Regions from separate parts of the Homo sapiens genome. Here region 2 is linked to region 1. The links come from fine-mapping of genetic effects on gene expression. A gene starts in region 1. The other region holds a variant in brackets. All regions are shown on one strand. Distances are from middle to middle.

What was found. PIP is the estimated chance that this variant, and not a neighbour inherited with it, causes the effect.
Region 2: its variant is the best candidate, but not a certain one, in a credible set for the expression of DDX18 in minor salivary gland (GTEx, PIP 0.50).

What each region holds. Positions count from the first base shown.
Region 1 is chr2:117,811,854-117,817,241 of GRCh38, forward strand. DDX18 (DEAD-box helicase 18) reads left to right here and starts at 2,838. Exons shown (of 14, transcript NM_006773.4): 1 at 2,838-3,009. The coding sequence starts at 2,925. RefSeq lists enhancers at 2,600-2,894, 2,622-3,159, 2,705-2,834, 2,965-3,014, 3,035-3,084 and 1 more.
Region 2 is chr2:117,752,939-117,758,326 of GRCh38, forward strand. It overlaps LOC124907878 (a long non-coding RNA gene), which reads right to left. Exons shown (of 2, transcript XR_007087210.1): 2 at 1,155-4,836. Among named protein-coding and RNA genes, the nearest start is that of DDX18, 59 kb to the right of the region's middle. The variant T/C (reference allele first, on the strand shown) is at 2,295.

The sequences.
Region 1 (5,388 bases):
TTTTAGTCAGGAGGTAAAAGACAGAAACTCCTGGCCAGGTGCGGTGGCTCATGCCTGTAATCTCAGCACTTTAGGAGGCTGAGGCGGATGGATCACCTGAGGTCAGGAGTTCGAGACCAGCGTGAATAACATGGAGAAACCCTGTCTCTACTAAAAATGCAAAATTATCTGGGTATAGTGGTGCATGCTTGTAATCCCAGCTACTTGGGAGGCTGAGGCAGGAGAATCACTTGAACCCAGAGGCGGAGGTTGCGGTAAGCCAAGTTCGCGCCATTGAACTCCAGCCTGGGCAACAAGAGCAAAACTCTGTCTCAAAACACACAAACAAACCAACAAAAAAAAGACAGCAACTCCCTTCCTGCTTCTGCCTGCTGCTGGCTCAGTCCCTATGCATAATGAATATTGAATGACAGACTCCATCCCCAGACCCCTTCCCAAGGCTAGGATGTTGCTCCTGTGATGTGCTTCCTTTTCACTGCATTCATCATAGTTTACCATAATCGTTTAATTTTCTGTCTTCCTTGTAAGCTCTGTAAGCTCCACCTAGGCGAGCCAGGTCTATCTTGTCCACCATTTTATACCCAGGATTTGGCACATGCCTACCACACACTCTTAGCACAAAAATGCTCAAAAAATAGTTGCATAATGACTATATTATGCGATTGTTTTATGGCGAATGACCATATTCTGAAGAGAGAGACCTCTGTGATGGAGAGCCCAAGCAAGAAGTTTTAAAGACTGAAACGCATTCTGAATAGATACTGGGATAGGCTCCAGCTGTGAAGAACAACAGGCTTTTCAGAAGCACGTGATTGTTACCTCATCCTCACAGGTAATTTTTGAGTAGCTAACCCAATGACATTGTTTTCTTTGCTAGAGTAACTGATGATGTGGCCTTGGAAATTCACTCTGTTAAAAATAACTCTCAACCCTAATTTTGAGAGTTGATTTGAAGTTATAATTTCTCATTCTTCTTCTAAAAATCCAGAAGAATTGGCATCAGTAGCTTTATCTATGTTTCTTAAAAGGTTATCAATCCCTAACGTTAAGCATTTCCATGCACCTGAAAGGATCGGCTTCTCTGATCTAAATGTCTTAAACACCTCGTAAATGTGGGTTTTTTTGGTTTTGAGGAAATGACTGCCAATCTTCACTACTAGCTAGAAAAAGTCACACTCTAGAAAAAAGGGAGTACCTTTCCATTACTACTACCAAAACATAGCCCCACAAATTTAAGTTACAACATAAAAGAAATAACAAATTTTGAGCACTTTCTATATATACTTCAGTTGTATCTATTTCAAAGTCACAGACCCAAAACTCACACATGTAATCAGGTAAATATATATGTATGTACATAGAGCTATAGAAATAGATACATATGTGTATATGCATATATATACTGATATATGCATAAATTTAAACTGGCATATATATTTACACTGAGATAAATGTTTGCGTGTGTGTGTGCGCTCTTACATTTCTGAATCATTCTTCAGCCTGCCTGATCATTAACAAATTAATCTAAGCACATTATTATTTGTTTGTCTTAGTTTTCCAGTCCAATCCAATGTGATTTCGAAGTCAATTCCTTCACATTCTGTTTAAACTCCCTCCCAAGTTTTCTCCCTCTCTGTTCCTCACTATGATCAGGTCTAATCTCCAGGGTCTCATGTTCTGCCCCTCCAAGTAAACAAATTAATCCAGGTTTCATGGACTCTTCCAGTTGTTCAGCTCAAATTGATTACTGTTAAGGGGAATTTGAGGGCATTGGGCCAATTTTTAAAGACAAATATGAATTTTTATGGAAATCTCCAAGTATTTTAATGTTGATAACAATTTTTTTAAAAATTAAATACTATATGCATACCCCTGTCTTCCTCCCCATCCCAAAAAAGAGATGACTATTAGCTAGCCACATTGCAATTTCTGTCCTGGACTGCTGAAGGGTCCTTGGGTATACTTAAGGAATATATAAACCTCTTTTTCAAACTGCAGTCAACCTATTATTAATGTAGTAAAGTTAATTTAAATTCATAGGAATCAGTATTTTTAGTAAGCTAAAAAGAATAATTTAGGATGGAATGAATGGAATTGAAGGAAAAAGAGTGAAAAGCAAGAATATTATTTTGAGAAATGTTATATTTATGTGTGTATGTGTACCAAGTGACACAGAAATTGTATTTCTGAGGAGAGTGGCCAAACAAGTTTGGAAATGCATATATATAATTTAGTTCTATTCAGTTTCCCAAATACAGTTGTCCCTCAGTATCCACAAGGGATTGAGTCCAGGACCCTCTATGGGTACCAATATCTTAGGATACTCAAAACCCTTATATACAATAGTGTAATATTTGCATTTATTTTACACACAACATCCTGTATACTTTAAATCATTTCTAAATGACTTATAATACCTTATACAACCTAAATGCTATGAAAGTAGTTATCACACTGTATTATTTTTAATTGTTTTTTTTTTAATGTTTTCAATGGGGGAGTTGGTTGAATCCACAGACAGGGAATTCAGGTACAGGGAGGGCCAACTCTAGTTCTGCACCCACAGAGGATAGGAACATAAAAATGCGGACTCCCTAAGGCCTCCTTCCCCTCCACGTTCTTTCTTCAGTCTTCCTCTAGGGGGAGCTCAAGTTAGCTTTAGCACAGTGTGAAGCCAGTGCAGCGTCTCGCTTCCACTTCTCCAGGGGGCGCTGCAAAGATTTTGGTCGCCAAAGATATCACGGTGCGCGCGTCTGGAAGCATTTCCGCTCTGGAGCATTTTCGTTCCGCCGGGTGCCAGCGTTCCTGTGACGCGTTTCCTGTTGGCCGAGCTGCGCACGTGCGGCCGGAAGGGAAGTAACGTCAGCCTGAGAACTGAGTAGCTGTACTGTGTGGCGCCTTATTCTAGGCACTTGTTGGGCAGAATGTCACACCTGCCGATGAAACTCCTGCGTAAGAAGATCGAGAAGCGGAACCTCAAATTGCGGCAGCGGAACCTAAAGTTTCAGGGTGAGATGCGTTGACTCGCGGTGGCTCAGAAGACCCACGCGCGAGCCCTGGCGCGTTCGGGCGGCCGGGGGCCCAGCTGCTCTGTGTGACGGAGGCAGCTTCCCCTGCAGCGTGTGTGATTGGGGAGAGTGAAAAGGCAGCTTCCACTCGGGACCCGCGCTGCTGCCCACTCGTCGCGTGGCTCCAGCGCTGCTCCTGACCTTTCTGAGCAATCAGTGTCTTCTTACAACGTTAGAGCGGGAGGACTCCCCGTTCACTTCTAGGCTTACGACTAACCCTGCCTTTTGCATTTCCACCTTAGCTTTTGGTTCCCTCACCACCTGCAAGTCGCACCTCACCTCATCCCTCATTTCCGGTTATGCTGCATGAAACGTCTCATTTCCACCCACTTTTCACATCTATTTAATTCCCGTATTTCTTTCCCCAAAAGCCCGTCTGGCTGTTTCCACAGAGCTTCTTTGATACTATTGCCTTCCTCTACCCACTTCCACACGTTCTCGTAGCACTTTCTCACCAGAGCTTCTACGTATTTGTGTCCCGCACAGTGACCTAAATGAAAAGGATTTTATCTGAATGTCACCTTTCTTACCTACCTCATTTGCAGTCCCAGTGTCCTGACAGTGGGGCCACAGATCTTGAAGTAATTGTGTTAACCTGTTGTCCAGGTTAAGATACAAACTCCCCGAGGGAAAGTTTGGAGGCACAGTGCCTTGCCCCAGTTGGTTTTCAACAGACATTAATTGAAAAAAAATTCTGCAGGAGGCAATAGGTTTGTGAATTTTAGGAATATGTTTTGAAATACTCTTGTATTTCTAATTCCTATAGAATAATACTACAGCATTACTACTTTTCAGCGCATATGTAAGTAAATTTGAACAAAAGATGGTGTTTTATCTTTTTCAGTAAACAAACAGGGAACCTTTGGTAAGGACATTCTCAGGTACAGTCATGCATCGCATAACAGGAGGGGGGATACATTGTGAGAAATGTGTCATTAGGGGCTTTTGTCGTTTTGCGAACTTTATCTAGTTACACAAACCTAAATCTACTACACACCCAGGCTACATGATATAGCCTGTTGCTCGTAAGCTGTCATCCTGTACAGCATGTTACTGTACTATACTCAGAGAATTGTAACACAATGGTAAGTGTATGTATGGCTAAATATATCTAAACATAGAAAAGGTACAGTAAAAAGACTATGACATGAGAGATTTAGAAAATGGTACCTCTGTATACAGTACTTACCATGAATGGAGTTTGCAGGACTGGAAGTTACCCTGAGCGAGTCAGTGAGCGGTGAGTGAATGTGAAGGCCTAGAACATTACTGTACACTATAGACTTTATAAACACTGTACACTTGGGCTACACTGTTGAGTTTTTTAATACTTTTATTCTTAAATTAACCTTAGCCTGCTGTAACTTTTACATTATAAACTTGTTAAATTTTAACCTTTTGACTTTAATAACACTTAGCTTACAACACAAGCACATTGTACATACAGCTGTACAAAAAGTTTCCTTTTGTCCTTATTCTATGTGATTTTTATTTTATTTTTTTTTCTTTTTAAGCTTTTTGTTAAAAATGTAAAGACACAGACACATTCAGTTTCACTGTCTTCCGCTTCCACATCTTGTCCCACTGGAAGATCTTCAGGGGCAACAATAGGCATGGAGCTGTCATCTCCTATGATAACAGTGCCTTCTAAAATACCTCTCTCCCTGAGGCTCTTTTACAGTCGACTCATTTTTTTTTAATAAGTAAAAGGAGTAAACTCTAAAATGATGATCAAAAGTATAGTAAACACATAAACAAGTAACATAGTTTATTATCACGTATTATGTATTGTACATAATTATGTGTGCTGTACTTTATACGACTGGCATTACAGTAGATTTGTTTATACTAGCATCACTACAAACATGAGTAATATGTTGCACTACGACATTGCAGTTACTGATGGCACTAGGTGATAGGAATTTTTTAGCTCCGTTATAATCTTATGGAGCCACTGTATATGTTGTCCTTAATTCACAGAAATGTCATTGTGCACGCATTACTGTATTTGCATATGATAAATATTGGAGCAAATAAGTGGTCTTATCAACTGAATTTTCAACTCACTGCAGTCTAGAAGAGTTGGGGTTGAATGTTTTGAAGTGGTATGAAAAATAGTACTTGTGTGAATGAGTTGTAAATGTCTTTTTCAATATATCAGTTAATCATATGTTTATCAAATACTTATGTTTATTCTGTAACTGCCATTATCTGACCTCATCTGTTTAAATATTTGACCTCATTGAAGTTTTCCTGTCCTAGACTCCTTAAAGTCAGATGTACGGTCTTTTGCAGTTAAGAAATCAATATAGCTTTCCCT
Region 2 (5,388 bases), 59 kb before region 1:
CAGCAGCCTGCCTCAACTATGAGCTGTGTAGATATGAATAGCCCTGCTTTCTAGGGGGATCTGAACAGAATCCCAACCTGTGTTGCTCCTTGAGCTCTTTCAGCCATGACATAAGCAGAAAAAAAATTAATCATGAAGGAGCACTTTGATGCAGTAGCTTATATCCCCTGGAGTTTGTTTTACACATAGATAAGCGTTGTGAAAGGTTAAGTAGTCTGTCTAAAGTTACTTCCTGCTAATAATAATAATGACCACTACTTATTGAGCCCTTAGTAAGCTGAACACTTTCATGTATTAACTCATTTAATTCTCACAACAATTATACAAGGTAAGAAATATTATTAGCATCTCCATCTTAAAGATGAGGATGCTAATGCACAGAGAAGCATTTGCCCACCTCAAGAAGCCAGGAAGTGGGGGAGCTGGAGTGACCTGTCTGCAGACTCCACACTCTCCAGCACCACAGCAAACTGCCTCCCAAGCCACAGAGGTAGAATCACACAGCATCTCCCAGCTATGAGCACCCTGGTCAGGCAGGAGACAGGGGAGGATGTGATCACTGATGGTTATCATGAAATACTTCTCAGGGAAAATTAAGTAAATAAAATGAGCTTCATTAAGGACTTAAGGCCCCACAGGTATATCCTGGAATAACTAAAACTAAGGAGTATGAAGTGTTTTATACAAGAAATTAACAGGAAAGTAAGAGGTGGATAAGCAAAGGAAGAGAGAGCCCAACAAATCAGCAAGAAGCTGAGACTGGGATAAAAATACCACTATTAACAATTCTCTAGCAGTGGAAATGGCTAAGGGGCTTTAAAGAACAAGGACATCTAATTATTCATCTAGATATCACTAGTAATGTTTGCCTAATATTTCTACAATTTCCACTTCTGAGCACATGGTTGACTTGTACTTCCTGAACCCCCATAATTGAGTTGGGTTATATGATGAGTTCTCCCTAAAAAGCTGAAAGAAGTGACATGACTCGTGTCACTTCCATCAAATACATTTAATTGTCTCCAGAGCTCTCTTCCCCTCTGCCATGGTGATACAAAGCATTTGAGATGGTGGCTACTTAAGCCTGGTTCCCTGAGTGTCTGTGTGGAGCAGAGCCCCCTGCTGACCTGTGGTGATGCACGGCATAAACTATATTTGTTGTTGATGTTTTTCTAATTTTATTATGGAAGTTTTCAAACATTCAGAAATTAACAGAATTTTACAGTGAATTTTTCTGTACCCACCATCTAGATCCTACAATTAACATTTTCCTATATTTGTTTTATCACACATCTGTACATTCCTCTATCCACCCATCAATTAATTTTACCTATTGGATACATTTCAATAAGTTGCAGACATTAGTACATCTCAGCCTAACCACTTCAGTATGCATATCACTTAGTAGAGCCCAATATTTGTTTGCAGGTGATTTTTTTGACAAAATATACATATAGTGAAATGCACAAATTTTATTTGCCCATTTGATGAGTTACATTTGTTGGTTTTAGCCATGGAGATTTGGGGCTGTTTGTTACTACAACATAACCAAGCCTACCCTGACTGATTCATTCAACTTCGTGTTGGGCTGCCCTGTGATGTCATCCGCAAGTTGCCCTTAAATCTACTATTCAATCTAACACACACATGCTGGAGTTGGTGGGCTGTGGTAAGAGGATGGTCAGGGAGGTTTCCAATATAGTGATGTGGTAACAAAATGAGACAGTAAACAGAGGAGTCAAAATGTAGAGTAGAGATTAAGAACGCTAAATAAGGTGACCTTGGAGGCAAAGGCAATTTGGATAAATGCAAGCACAATCCCCTCACTTTTACCAAAACTACCAGAAAATATTAAAAAGAGACAACATAGTCATCCCCCTGTATGCTGGAATGAGGGTTTGAGTCTATTGACTTGCCTTTATTGACAGAGTTCATTATTCCTTCCTCCTTCTAAACCTTCTTCATTTGGCCTCCAGAACCACCCTCTCTCCTGATTCCCCTTCTGCCTTCCTGGTTGGTCACCCTCATTCTTGAGTTTATCTTCATCCCTCCCACCTCTAATAGTTGGAGTGCCCTAGAGTTCAGTCTCTGGGTCTCTTCTCTTGTCTATCCATACTAATCTCCTTGCAGATTACATTGAGTTTCATGCCTTTAAACACAATCAATATGATTTTTTTAATTTCTGAATGTATATCTCCAGCATGGATTTCTCCCCTAAATTGCAGCTTTAAGATCTGACAGTCCACTCAACATCTCTATTTATAAGTCTAATACACACCTCAAACTTAACTTGA[T/C]CATATCAGAACTTCTGATCTTCTCCCCCTAAAATTATTCCTCCTAAAGTCACCCTCATCTCAGTTCAGGACAACTTTATCCTTCCCATTGTTCAGACTAGGTCATCTTTGACTCTCTCTCTCTCTCATTCTCTCTCTCTCTTTCAATATCTATATATCTATCTCTCTTTCCCCTTATTATGTCAAGAAAATTTTTATCATTACCTTTAAAATGTATCCAGAATCTGTGATGTCTTGCCACTTTTTTCACTACTACACTGGTCTAAGCTATTGCCATCTTTTCCCTGGATCGTGTCAAAAGAGTTTCAACAGGTTTCCCTGGTTCTACCTTCAACCTCTCACAGTCTTTTCTTAACATATCAGCCAGGGTGATCCAGTTACACATAACTCAGAATAAAATCACTCTTCTGCTCACACGACAGAGTAAATGCTAAAAACCTTCACCATGTTATAAAACCCTACCTGATCTGGCCTACTGTTACCTACTCACCTCATCTTCTTTTCTCCCTATGATTCACTGCTCTCCAATCACATTGGACCCTTGTCTATCCTTGAATATACCAAGCACCCTCTTGTCTGGCTTAAGCCAAAGGAGAGTCCTATTAACCTAGCAGGAAGAGGTAGTCAGTCCCAGGCTAGCTCAGATCAATGATTTCAACAAGGATAGGGCTGATTTTCTCCTCCTAGTCTGCAACTTCGGTGCCATGGCAACAATCTCCTCTTAGGATCACAAAAGAGCTATCACAGCTCTAAGCCTGATATCCTCCCATGACTGTTCAAAGAAGAAAGGAAGGTATTAGCAAAAGGACTCTGTTCTCAAGTGCCTGCGTGTTGTCAGCAAGGCAAAACTTTTCCAAAGAGCACCAGCAAAGCTCCCATTACATATCACAAGCCAGAACATACTCCCTGGCAAAGGAGAGTGTGATTGTCTTGATGGTCACCATTCCTCCCCTGGGGCTAGCCACACTTATGGCAGCAATGAAATAGACATCTGACAGCAAGGAGGAATGGGACAACCAGCACCCTACTAGACACCATTGACAGGCCACTAGATTGAGTAAGAGGAGCCCCAAACTCCATACCTGCTCTGCCCTTGTGATGTTTATATGTAATACCCCTGCACTAAAACAGTTCCTTCATCTGCAAAATGAGGAGGTTGGGCTAGACATTGCCTTCCAGCTTGAATGTTCTCTTATTCTGTGACTTCCATGTGGTGTTGTAAAGGTCTGAGTCTTCCTATGTGCCATTCCTCATGTATGTAAACATCTCCTAAAATGATGGGAACTCTAGGATGTCTTTGATCATCTATTTTAAAAAGAGAAGAGAAATTTTAACAAGAACATTTTGTACTGCTCATTCCCCACTGGTTCTTAAGAGTAAAGAACCTTTTTCTACCATTACTGACATTTAAAGACAGCTATTCAGATTCAGTAATTAGAACTCAAAATCATTCAGCATAAAGCTATAGCTTCCCAACAGTTGTTCCACTGTGGAAGTGTGAATGACTAACTCTTATCTGTGTTGCTAACAGTAATTCCTAATCATTATATTATTACTCAGTTTTAAAGCAAGAGAATGAAAACAATGCTGCCTTTGGCATCAGGACTTCTGTCATTACTGGAACACAAAATTGATATCATGTGTTCATATTAGTAAGCTTAGGCCCTGTTCTTCAGAGGTCGTTGCTGTGAGAAGCTGAAAAACAAATTGTGAGCTCCAAAATATCTGTCGAATGCAAAAGGAACATTGTTCTACCTGTGGAAGATAAGTACAAAAATATATGAAGAGGCCCAAACCATGTGTTTTTTCTCTTGGCATGTCCACTAACTGGCACAGTGCTTACCACATGTCAGTGCTCAAAATTTATGTATTGCATGAATAATGGAAGAATGAATTAATGCTTTATTAGAAAGGCCCACATAGATGTATCTTGGAATCTGCACAGACCAACCATCCTGCTTCCTCCCTCCCTCTGCCTGTGGCAATGACTCACTTTGACTATGATGGTCCATCCACCCATCTTCTTTGATTCTCATGTTCTGCAACAGTAATTGCAAAACTGCTCAAAGGTAGTAAAACACAATTCAGTCCTCTGCCTTTGCACACAAATATTCTTTCTCCTCACCTCCAAGCAGAAATGGAATAGGCATTGGATCAGGAAAGCATCCTCCCAGCACCTTAGTTTGCACAGGCTGTGTCAGCCCTACCCCAAGCCAGTGTCTGTTAGAGCCTGTGGTTCCACGTGTAATTGGGCATATGTGATACACACACTGTAAGCATTTGCCTAGAAGCATAACATTAAGCATGCTGCTGCCTTGTAATACTTCTCAAAAACACAATTTAGCGGAAAAAAATTATTTTCAAAGGTGCATGAAATCTATCCTTTTCATCCTCCCATTTAGATACTCTAAAGTTCACTCCTGAATTAAGCTAGACCTACAGAAATTCGTGAAGTAAAACAGTCTTTTGACCTTTTCTCTCTTCTTCACTCTTCCTGTTGAAAGATTTTCACTGGCATGGGCTATGATGTGATGTTATCAGCCTGCATTGGGAAACACAAAAGAAACACCAATGTAACCCCAGGTGTCTGCAATGAGAAGGTTGAAGGTGCTGTTACTTTACACAGTGGGCTCATTCATGAGAGTCCCGAAAAGAATGTTGTTCCTGCCACAGTATCAAAATGAATTGTGCATCTCCTTAAAATGGGCTTGTTTTTAATCTCATGAACCCTAAATAGTACAACCAAACAAATGTCTCTTTTCATTTAGTTTCTAGAATACTTACAGAACAATTTGAGGCCCACCTGTTAAAAAGAATGACAGGCTGTATGCATGGTCTGCATTGCTGTTTTGGCTTCATTCCTGGCTATTAAAAAAATAGCTCCACCAGGCCAGGCACAGTGGCACATGCCTGTAATCCCAGCACTTTGGAAGGCCAAGGCAGGGTAGATCACCTGAGGTCAAGAGTTGGAGACCAGCTTGGCCAATATGGTGAAACCCCATCTCTACTAAAAAAAAAATAAGAATACAAAAAGTAGCCGGGCATGGTGGCAGGCACCTGTAATCCCAGCTACTCAGGAGTCTGAGGCAGAAGA